2 separate regions of the Homo sapiens genome follow, and region 2 is linked to region 1. Evidence: fine-mapped expression QTL. A gene starts in region 1. The other region holds a variant in brackets. All regions are shown on one strand. Distances are between the middles of the regions.

The links. PIP is the estimated chance that this variant, and not a neighbour inherited with it, causes the effect. A credible set is the group of variants that fine-mapping cannot tell apart.
Region 2: its variant is the best candidate, but not a certain one, in a credible set for the expression of E2F8 in prefrontal cortex (CommonMind, PIP 0.88).

Annotation. Positions count from the first base shown.
Region 1 is chr11:19,238,788-19,244,164 of GRCh38, forward strand. It overlaps E2F8 (E2F transcription factor 8), which reads right to left and starts at 2,158. Exons shown (of 13, transcript NM_024680.4): 1 at 1,761-2,158; 2 at 1,320-1,443. The coding sequence starts at 1,334. All of the region lies in intron 1 of CSRP3-AS1 (CSRP3 and E2F8 antisense RNA 1), which reads left to right. RefSeq lists a silencer at 2,228-2,927 and enhancers at 3,048-3,157, 3,363-3,934, 3,935-4,504.
Region 2 is chr11:19,172,991-19,178,367 of GRCh38, forward strand. It overlaps ZDHHC13 (zDHHC palmitoyltransferase 13), which reads left to right. Exons shown (of 17, transcript NM_019028.3): 17 at 2,832-3,425. The coding sequence ends at 2,970. Among named protein-coding and RNA genes, the nearest start is that of CSRP3-AS1, 21 kb to the right of the region's middle. RefSeq lists an enhancer at 1-1,999. The variant G/A (reference allele first, on the strand shown) is at 2,828.

The DNA of each region.
Region 1 (5,377 bases):
AGAGAAAATGGGGCCCAGAGAAGTAAAATGATTAGGTTGGTGCAAAAGTAATTGTGGCTTTTGCTACTGAAAGTAATGGCAAAAACAGCAATTATGTTTGCATCAACCTAACAGCTACCTAAGACCACAAAGCTAGATCCTGGCAGAAGCAGGATAGCCACTGAGACAAAAGGGTAAATTAACAGCAGTTCATAAATAAGGCTAATGGAGACTATGTTCCTTCCAGTTTTGGACACCAGGGACTTCACACACTACTCCCATCTTTATCTATTTTAAAGAAAATGCTTGGAACAGCAATAAGTAAAATAATAGGCAGACCAAATAACTTTAAGAACATGGACAAATGGGACATGTTGTGACATCTTGGGTTTATCAAGTGCATTTCCGTTTGTATGTTCATGGAATCCTGCATTCTTAGCTCGCAGAAGAGAAGATGCAGGCTGAGAGAGGTCACGTAGGAGTGGAACACAGATATTTTCACTCCAAGTATGGTGCTCTTCTTACATGGAAGTCAGTATGGTGGACCCAACAGGAGCTCCTTGCCAGTGTGTGCATCTGAGATGTACTGATCTGACAATAGGCTTTTTCTTTGCCTCAGATTATCAGAAGCAATAGTAATTCTCTTATTTGACTAACATCTAAAACTATTAGGAAATATGCATGTAAGTTCACTTTTTTAAACCTATTAGTAGTTGGACACCCCCCACAGACAATTCTTTTGTAATTTTACAAAATGTTTGCCCCCTAAACAGAGCATTTTGCAGACCCCATAAATAAGCTGCCAATTTGGTAAAAAATTATCTTAAAAAGAAATTCAGTCTCCAAACATGTCAAATGCCCTTTCTGAATTCCAAGTTGTTCAAGAATCCTCAGAAATGTTGTAATGAAACTAACGAATTTTTGAAGAGGGGTAGGTTTGCCCCTTTACACTCTTTCTAGTTTTTAATGATTTGGTAGCTGTCTCAGACATAAAGAGAGAAAAGGTATTTTTAAGAATAATAAAATTTGTTAGTTTCATTACAACATTTCTGAGGATTCTTGAACAACTGGAATTCAGAAAGGGCATTTGACATGATTGGAGACTGAATTTCTTTTTAAGATAATTTTCATTTTTTAAACTATATTAATTAAATTAGTATATATTTTAAACTATATATTTTTGAAACTATAAGATAAGGTTCATTTTTTCCAGGTCTTTACAGAGGCTAACCAAGGTTGTGGCATTAAGAAAACACATTGGATAGGGAAAAATTATGGAGTTAAATCAGGATGATACTGAATTTAAAATTGCAATGATGAATACTGAAGTTATAAAGTACCTTTTCGTTCTCCATTCTGTAAATTCCTCATACATTTAGAGTTTAAAAATGAAAAATCTGGAGTTCCTCCCCAAATCCCGATGGTTCAAGTAGTCCAATCAATTGTACTAAAAGTTTTAATATCCTTAAAGAAAAAAGGAAATAGAAAAAGTTAGAGAAAAACAAGAACCAAAAGATCTGTTGAAAATTCCTTCACGGACAAGAGGCTACGGAAACAAAGCCTAACGAAAAATGACAAACTAGATTTACATTTTATTCTCGACCAGAGATCGCCCCACTGAGCGGAGAACGCCAACAAATGCCAGTAAATTCCTTCAGCAAACGGATCGGCGGTCCTAAGACTTCAAGCAACCCACGGAATTTCTAGTGACAGCCCTCTCCCATCTGTAGAAAAGGCGAGCCATTCTCCGGACCCCAGCGAATACTTTAGGAAGCACCCACCTGTTCGCAGATCAGGGCTCCGGACTAAGCGCACGAGCCCAGGTCCCAGCTGAGCGCACGCGACCCCAAGTAACTGGGTACAAGTCTGCATCTAGATGCCTGGATTTCTCCCCTTACACACACGTGCACAGGCTCAGCAGTAAAGTCGTGGGAGGTCGCTTGACAGGAAAGTTCCAAATTCAGTCCCAAAGCTCCAAGTATGCAGTTGGGCATTTAAAGAGTCTTATAATTAAGACTTTTTTTTTAAATTTAAAAAAGGGCTTCCTTAAAGATACAAAGCACTATTTACTCCCTGTTCGGGTGGCCAGTTCACACCACGGCGTTAGACTCCACCTTGGAAGGCTGTATTTGCCCAATAAGGCAAGCAGGTACTGTCCCCCGGCCGCCACTCGCTCAGTGCACTTCCCCCAACTTTCGGCCAAAGGCCCCTCCCCCAGGCCCTGTCCGCCCGCCGCAGTCCCGACAGTTCCCGGACAGCATCATCGTGGTTTCCAGGACAACAATTCCCGACCAATCAGAGGGCCGGAAGCGGGCCTGCGATTGGCCGACGGCGCCAGGGGCGGGGCCGGACCTTCCGCCTTCGATTTAAAAATTTGGCGCGGAAAGTCGGACCGTGGCCGGCGCCTCCCCTTAGCTGCGCGGGGCCTGAGCGCGGGCAAACCCGCGCCCGGAACCACGGCAACCCCGCCCCTCCCCCTCGTTCGCCCCCGCCCCTCTGCGCGGGAGCTCAGCTCCTCCCTCACGGCCCCCGGCGAAGCGGGAGGCGGGAAACGGCCGCCGCCGCCGCCGCCGCCACCCTCCCGAGCCCTCTCCCGGTGCCGTGTCGCCCGGGCGCCGCGCCCCTCTGCGTCCCGCTGACCTGTCAGTCCACCTCACGGCGGGAGCCGGCGGGGGCTGAGCCGGGACTCGTCAGCACCGCTGCCCCTCTCAGGCCCGGGAGCCCGCGTACCTGGCAGTCAGTCTTTCCGCAGCGCCGAGGTGGGTGCCGGAGAGAGACGCCGGGACCGGGACTGGCGGGCCGGCTGGCGGGCAGAGGGAGCGTGACCGTCCAGGAGCAGCCAAGCCCCCGATTTGAAATTAACCCGCTCCCGGCGCGAGCCGATACCGCGGGCGGGGAGGGCCGCTCCCCTCCCCCACGCCCGCTCGCCCCGGCCCCGGCCCCCGAGCGCCAATCCGAGCCTCCCGACCGTAGCCGCCGGCGAATCGGTGCAGGCACCGCCCTCCACTCCCGCCTCTACGGCAGAGTTGGGGGAAAAGTTCAGCAACTTTTTTTTCCTTTTTTTTTTTTTTTGCATACACCCCCTCCCCTTGCTCAAAGTTGGGGAATAAAATTTGGCCCGTCCGGGGCTCGCGGGCTGGGCCGCAGGCGCCCTGCGATTCCCCGCTTGGGGCTATCTCACCCCTGCCCAGCCCCAGGCCGGCTCACCTGCCCTCGGACTCCAGCCGGACCTCTCCCCCTTGCACCCCTGGCATGCATGATTGTGCTGCCCACCGTCTGCCCCGTGCCTCGCAGAAACTGGCGCGAGGAGGGAGAAGCTTGGCTACTGGTGCCTAAGCTCCGTGGGCTCTGGGCCTTGGCCCAGCGGTGAGAACTCAGGTGTAGGAGGAAGAGGAGGAAGGCGGAAAACCCTCCAACCCTGTCCTCGCCGTCTTTCCTCAGGGTCTCCCACCCACTCCTCCCTTTCTCTTCCCTGTTGTCTTTCCCTCTTTTTCCGGTCTCCGAGCCTCAGGCAGCTTTAGCCTGGTTCCCTGTAGAGCCCTAGCAGGGTCGGGGAGACACTTCGATCCTTCGTCCTCACTTTGCAGAACGGGACACCGAGGCCCGGGGCGGCGGCGCTGCCTCGGCTGCACCTGGATCATTTGCGCCCGCGTTGGCTCCCTTTGCTCTCCTCTGCCTTAGACTTTTCTGCGGACTGGTGCTGAGTGTTGCCCAACCGCGCCGAGATCTGGGCGCCGGTCTCTCGATCTGGACTCGGTTTGGCTCGTCCTCCTCTGTAATCGCGTGTCTTTAGGCTCCAGCAGGGCCCGGGGCCACACTTCCCCACTCCCACCGCTAACTTGGGGATCAGTGACTCTCCCATTGCTGACTAGCAGGGCGAGGCATTTTTATTTTCTGCGAAACGCGATGAGGGCGGGGATGCTATGATATTGAGGCTGGGGTCGCAGCGCAGCAGCTGCCGGCCATAGGGCCAGGGGTCTCCGTGGCGAGCGAAGGCTCATCTCCCCGCGGAACGCGACCGCAGGCTTGCGGTGTGGCCGCCCTGGAATGTTGGCGCCGTCGTGTCCCTGTCCCCCTTTCGTCGCCAGCTGAGGTGCAGGTCTTGCTCAAGAAGGCGCTTCGACCTGAAAGCAGGCCTTTCAGGTACTGTGCAGAGGGGCCACTGCCTGTGGCTCGCAGATTTGAAATAAAGCAGAGGTCACTATATAGGGTTCCACCGTTGCTAGCACTGAGCGGCTGGTTCTTACTAAGCCCAGGTACCCCTTTTTTGGAGCAAGACTGGGTTCTAAATGTATCAACAAAAAGTGGGGAGTTGGTGCTTCTGCTTTAGCCACTAGCTGTTGGCCAGATTGTCATCTCCCCCAACCCCCTGAATGGTCAGCGCTCCCAAGAGTGCATAGATTCAGCTATGCCTAATGTACCCGAAGTTATTACAGCCCCGGAGTCCTGTGGGCCATAAATCCCTTTTAAAGTTCTTTAGAAGCAGTCTGCCTCATGCACCTGTGTTCAGAGATAGTGACTAATTCGTTCAAATCTGTGATCTACAGGGCCATTCATGCTGCAGATGTCTGAGTGACAGTTACCTGTAAGGCACATCATGCAGGGAGCAGCCACCTCTGGTGACACTTGACAGATGGCCTCTCATTTCATACTCAGCACAGGTGTGAAAGCATGGGTTATGACTCTGAGAGGGAAGCAGCATTTTAAAGTGACAAACCCAAGGTCTAACTGTAAGGGACAGGACTGGGATTTGAAGCCAAGGGTGTTTAACGTCTCAGGGCTTTCCACTGAAAGCTGTGTTCACCACTGTGCGGCGTGCTCATCCTTACTTGCTTCATAGGATAGTTGTGTCCCATTTTATAGAGAAGAAAACTGAGGCACAAAAGGGTTAAACTGATGGCCAAGTTAGCTACAGAGCCAGAATTAGAATCCAGGTCTACCTGCTCCAAGTTCATACATCCCATTCCACTGCCTCTGAAAGTTCCTGTGAGAGCAATGTTAGTGCCAACTCAGGCTAGCCCTTAACCATTTCAACCCCTCCCTAAACACACAAAAAAACAGGAAGGTGAGAGTGTAATTCTTGCTTACTGATAGTTGTCATGTCTTACTGAAGGAAGTGAAATTATAGTCAAACTCATTGAATATGTTGAAAAGTGGTTTTATTAAGAGTGAAGTGATACAGTTTTGAAGTCTTAACAACACTTTCATGTAATGAAAGGTAATAAAGAAAGAAAGGTTCTACTCATCACTGTGTAGAGTATCAATTTGAAATGCAGCATGAGTGTAAAGGAGGGAAAAGACTACTGAAAACTTTTATGTTTACTGCATAACCAAGAAGGAAGGATCAGGGCATAAGCTTGAAACTTTTTTTTTTTTTTAATTTTCCCATCAAATATGT
Region 2 (5,377 bases), 66 kb before region 1:
GTGAGCCCCACGGTGGTAAGAATTCGAGAGTTAGTTTACTGGACACAGCACAAATAGTAAGTGACTTTGAAGTTTTGCCAAGGTGGGGAATCTCTCCAGTCAAGCCACATGGTCACAAGGTTGTTTGTTGCTGGCGTGGAGTTGATGTGAGATAATTAAGTGTATGGCTGAGAGAGCCAGCCACAGGGTGCTCTGTAGAGAGCGTTCACTTGTGTGCTTTGCCAGGATTTTCAGCCTGGCTTTCTATCACCACTAATTCTTCTAGCCCTATGTTGAATGTGCCCTCTTGTACCAGGGAGAAGCCAATTTTTCAGATTTGGATTTGTTCCCCCTGGAGCATTTGGTTGTATAAAACACGTTTTCAGTTGAAAATGAGAGTATGTATAGAAAGACCTTCGTCTTACGATATGAAAGATTGGGCTTTGAAGCTTATCTCCCTGCCACTTATGGCAGGGTCTTGGAAACTGGGAGTGCTGCAGAGGTGACCCAGAGCCCTCTGGGGATTTGAATGCTCGCTGCATATCTCATGAGCAGTCTATTTTAAAGCATGCTGTTGGTACAAGATGAAACTGTTAGGCTGTTAGACAAGGGGATCAGAGACTGGGATATAACTACAATGTGTATTTAGGAGAGGAGAGAAATTGACTTAACTGGGAAGAGGTGGCTAAAGCAATGGCGAGTGGAAAGGAGCGTAAACTTGTGATGATTGTTTCACATTGACAGTGATAATAAAATCCCTTTCTTTGTAGCTAAACCAGAGGAATAAATGTTTACTCCACTAAACTATGGAAGCCTGTGATAGAGTTGGAATTTGAAGCTGAGCCTTGAGAGATGTGGGGCAGGGCACAATGGAGTTGGGAGGGAGGAAGGGCATTCCAAGCCCTAGAGAAGAGTCTGAATAGAGGGACACATGAGAGCACTAGAGCACGTTTGCTGAATGATGGCAGCATCAACTAGAGGAACTCAAGGGAAAACCTGAGTCCCGCCCAAACCAAAGATTTTACTTGTTTTCCTCCCCTAAGTTACTTTTACTCAGTACAGTAGTCACCCTTTCTCCATGAGGGATATGTTCTAAGAACCCCAATGGATGCCTGAAACTGCAGATAGTACTGAACTCGGTATATACCATGTTATTTCAGTCTGATAACCCAACAGGCAGGTAGTGTAGACAGAGTGGAAACACCAGACAAAGGGATGATTTATGTCTCAGGCAGACAGAGCTGGATGGCGTGAGATTTCATCATGCTCCGCAGAACGGCATGCAAGTTAAAGCTTACTAATTGTTTATTTCTGGAATTTTTCATTTTAATATTTTTGGGCTGCTGTTGACCACAGGTAACTGAAACTGAAACCAAGGGGAAGGGGACACTACTCTAACTAGCTTTTGAACCAGGCCCTATACATTTCTAGCATGCATCCCCACTGCCAACCCATCAACTCCACATAGCCTTCTTCCCAGGAAGTTGCCCTCTGAGTAGTGTTGGTCCTTTACTGGCAGCAATGCCATCATCCCCATGCAGAACACAATCTTCTAAACAGCAACGCAGTCATCCTCATGGACAGGTGTGTTTTGTTGTGTGTAAGGGATTGGGTTAGGCACTTAAAAGATAGAGCATATGCGTAAAAATGAGCATTTCTCATAACTGGAATAGATAGTGGTACTTCCGAAATTTAATGGAGAAAAAATGATGCCTAAGACAGTGCAGTCAGGAAAGCTCCAGTGGAAATGTGGGTATTGGCCTGGGCCTTGAGAACTGGTAGGACTTGAAAGGATAAGGGGGTTCCTGAGCTAAGTGTAGAGCAGTGTGCGTTCCAGGCCCACGCATCTATGATCATGGGAAAAATAGAGCCAGAGTAGCTGGAGCAGGAGATTTATAAAGATGCACAGAGGAGCTAGAACTAGAGGGATACCTTATATAGAGCCTTGAATACAAAGAGGAGGAATGTTTATTTGAGCCTCTAGGCAGAGGAGTATCTTTAAAGGGTTTTGATTGGGAGGTGAGGGGCTATGACTATATCAGGGTTTTTGGAGGACAACAGTCTGCAATATGCAAGATGAATTAAAAGGAATTGAGACAGAGAATTCATTTAGAGAGTTACTTATAAGGTTTAGGGAGGCCGGGTGCGGTGGCTCATGCCTGTAATCCCAGCACTTTGGGAGGCTGAGGTGGGCGGATCACGAGGTCAGGAGATTGAGACCATCCTGGCTAACACGGTGAAACCCCGTCTCTACTAAAAAAATACAAAAAATTAGCCGGGTGTGGTGGTGGGCGCCTATAGTCCCAGCTACTCAGGAGGCTGAGGCAGGAGAATGGCGTGAACCTGGGAGGTAGAGCTTGCAGTGAGCCGAGATCACGCCACTGCACTCCAGCCTGGGTGACAGAGCGAGACTCCGTCTCAAAAAAAAAAAAAAAAAAAAAAAAAAAAGGTTTAGGGAAAATCCCATCTTGTTGATTACAGTTGTTCTGGCCTATGTGGCCTTTGAGGTAATCAAGGTCTGAATTAGGGAAGTAGGAATAGAAAGAAAGAAACTTATTGATGTCAGTGGCCAGTCCATTAAGTGGGGAATCCAAAATGAAGTGATGATGAAAAACCCAATTAAGTGGCTGAGCGAGCAGAAGCCAGGAAATCTCCAAATATAGATTCAGGTCCAGAAATAGGCTTCAGTTTTAAGGTACCAGAAGCCCAGGAACTATCTGATCTACCCCATCTACCCCTGGATTTCTGCAAGATGTTCAAAGGACATTGCATATTATAGATTCTCCATAAATGTTTGTCAAGCTACACAGGAAATATAGTAAGACATGTTCTCTTTTTTTTTTTCTTG[G/A]CAGTCTTGGATTCATGCAGAACCTGGCAGATTTCTTTCAGTGTGGCTGCTTTGGCTTGGTGAAGCCCTGTGTGGTAGATTGGACATCACAGTACACCATGGTCTTTCACCCAGCCAGGGAGAAGGTTCTTCGCTCAGTATGAAGAAAAGCAACCCAAAACTCTCAATCTGATTTGTTTTTGTTTATGTCGATGCCCTGTAGTTTGAAAGTGAAGTAAAGATTTAGAATTCACCTAAGTCCAAAGGAAAACACGTGGTTTTTAAAGCCATTAGGTAAAAAAAGTTCTCAATAAAGGCATTACAATTTTTTAGGTTTAGAAAGATGGACTTTTCTGATAAATCTTGGCAGACATCTAAAAAAAAAACCATATTTTTCACAAGAAAATGCAAGTTACTTTTTTTGGAAATAATACTCACTGATTATGGATAAAATGGAATATTTTCAGATACTATATTGGCTGTTTCAAAATAGTACTATTCTTTAAACTTGTAATTTTTGCTAAGTTATTTGTCTTTGTTGTATCTATAAATATGTAAAAAATATTTAAATAGATGTACCTGTTTTGCTTTCACACTTAATAAAAAATTTTTTTTTGTAGTTGAGACTTGGTTTCTGACACTTAACACTTCTAGAGTCTTAAATTAAGATGTACATAGGACACAAATTAGTTCACAATTCCAGGAATGAGTTGAGATTATGATTAATACCAGTAAGCAAGATTTAATTTGGTTTTTCATCTTACTTAGAAAATAGAACATAGAAAGTCTTAAATATTAATTACAACTTTACTTAGTACCCTCAAAATATTAGACTGATATGACTGTAATTACTAATTTCCCTTGTTCTACAGGAAATGCTAATTCAACTTTAGTATAGTATTTATACACCCCTGGGCATGGCACCTTCCTGCTGAATAACCTCCCTTGGGTTCCTGTTGCTCTTGGGGTAAAAGCAAAAATTCTCATTGTGACCTACAAAGCCTTGAAGCATATAATCCTGTTTTGTTTAGCAGTGTCAGTGGAGCATGTTGTACTCTAATCATGTGGCCTTTCATTGCAAGGATCCGTTCTCTCTTCTACCAGAGATAAGAGATGCAGATAAGGAAACTAAAGCCAAAGAAGTTTTTATCTTCTCCAGGGTCACAGAGATACCAAATGGGGCTGCCACTGTACAGTCACAGTCACCTAGAATATCACGTGACACATAGTATTTGTTCAAAAAATATTAGAATTTGTTGAACCAATTTCAGGGTTTTAAGCAAGAGATGATGCTATCAGAATTGTGTTTGAAGACTGTGCTTCTCAATTGGAGTACAGAAGAGCTTTTTCAAGGTATATTCTCTTTCTCCCTTCTTCTCTCACCAACTCCTACCAAGTTAGTATTGTGGTCCAAATGGTCCAGAGACATTAGATCAGAGTCACAGGGCCAGGGTGGGTGTCTAGGGCTCACAGTTTAAAATTCAGTTTCTCCATCTCAGACCTTTCAAATCAGTCTCTAGGGAGAGAGTGCTGGAATCCTAATGATTCTTACATATGCATACTACTGTTTGAGAATCATTTACTTAAGGAACCTTACCTTCTCCATTCTATACATTGTGAAAAGTTTAAGCTTGAGAATCACTGCTTAATAGGTATGCAGTTGTAGTGGTAAAGAGACCAGATTCTAGGGACCCTGGGTTTGAATCTATGACCTATTAATTACCACATAAGTTACTTTTAATCCCTTTGGGCAAATGACATAAATCTCTAGAAACTCAGTTTCCTCATTTGGATTATGTAGATAATAATAGTAAACAATTTGAAATGTCATTATGAGAATTAAATGTGTTAATGTTTAAAAGTGCTTAGAATTGTACTTGGCATATAGTAAATGTTCAATAAATGCTGGCTATTAATTGAGAAGTCTAACAGAAAACTGATTACCAGAAAGATAAGCTAGAGGTAGAGAAATGCACCAAATCCAGTCTTCCGTGCTCTGTGTTGTATGTTCTAGGGCTAGAATTCTGCAAGCTACAGTCTCCCTGCCAGATGACTTCCTGTTAAAGTCGGTAGTAGACTGCAAGGAGGAGCAGAAAAGGGACTTATTCCATTCTTCTTGCCCGCTCTTCCTCTCAGTGTTGCTCCAACGATGGCCCTTTGCCCTGCAATGACATTTTGGAACCAATGTCTAACTTTTCTTCTTCCCAAAACCTACTTCATTGTGCCCCATTAGAAGTACTAGCAATAACCAGGCAGGGCTCTCTCCTTTGACATCTGACTTCTGCCCCGGGATACTTCTTCTCTGGGCATCTGAATTATGATAACCCATCTCTTCTCTTAGTTTCCCTATTCCCAGGAGTGATAGCTGCCTCTAGCAATTACTATCTCTATGTTAAATCAGTGTGTTCCCTTGTTACTTTTTCAAAAATAATAGCACCTGTTTAGCTAATTCCCTTTACTATATTCTCTTTATTAAAATAACTAGTGTGGTTTCTGTTTTTCTGGTGAAACTTGACAGATACAGAATATTAGAAATAAGCTGTTAATGATGGTCTAGGCAAGAGGTAATGA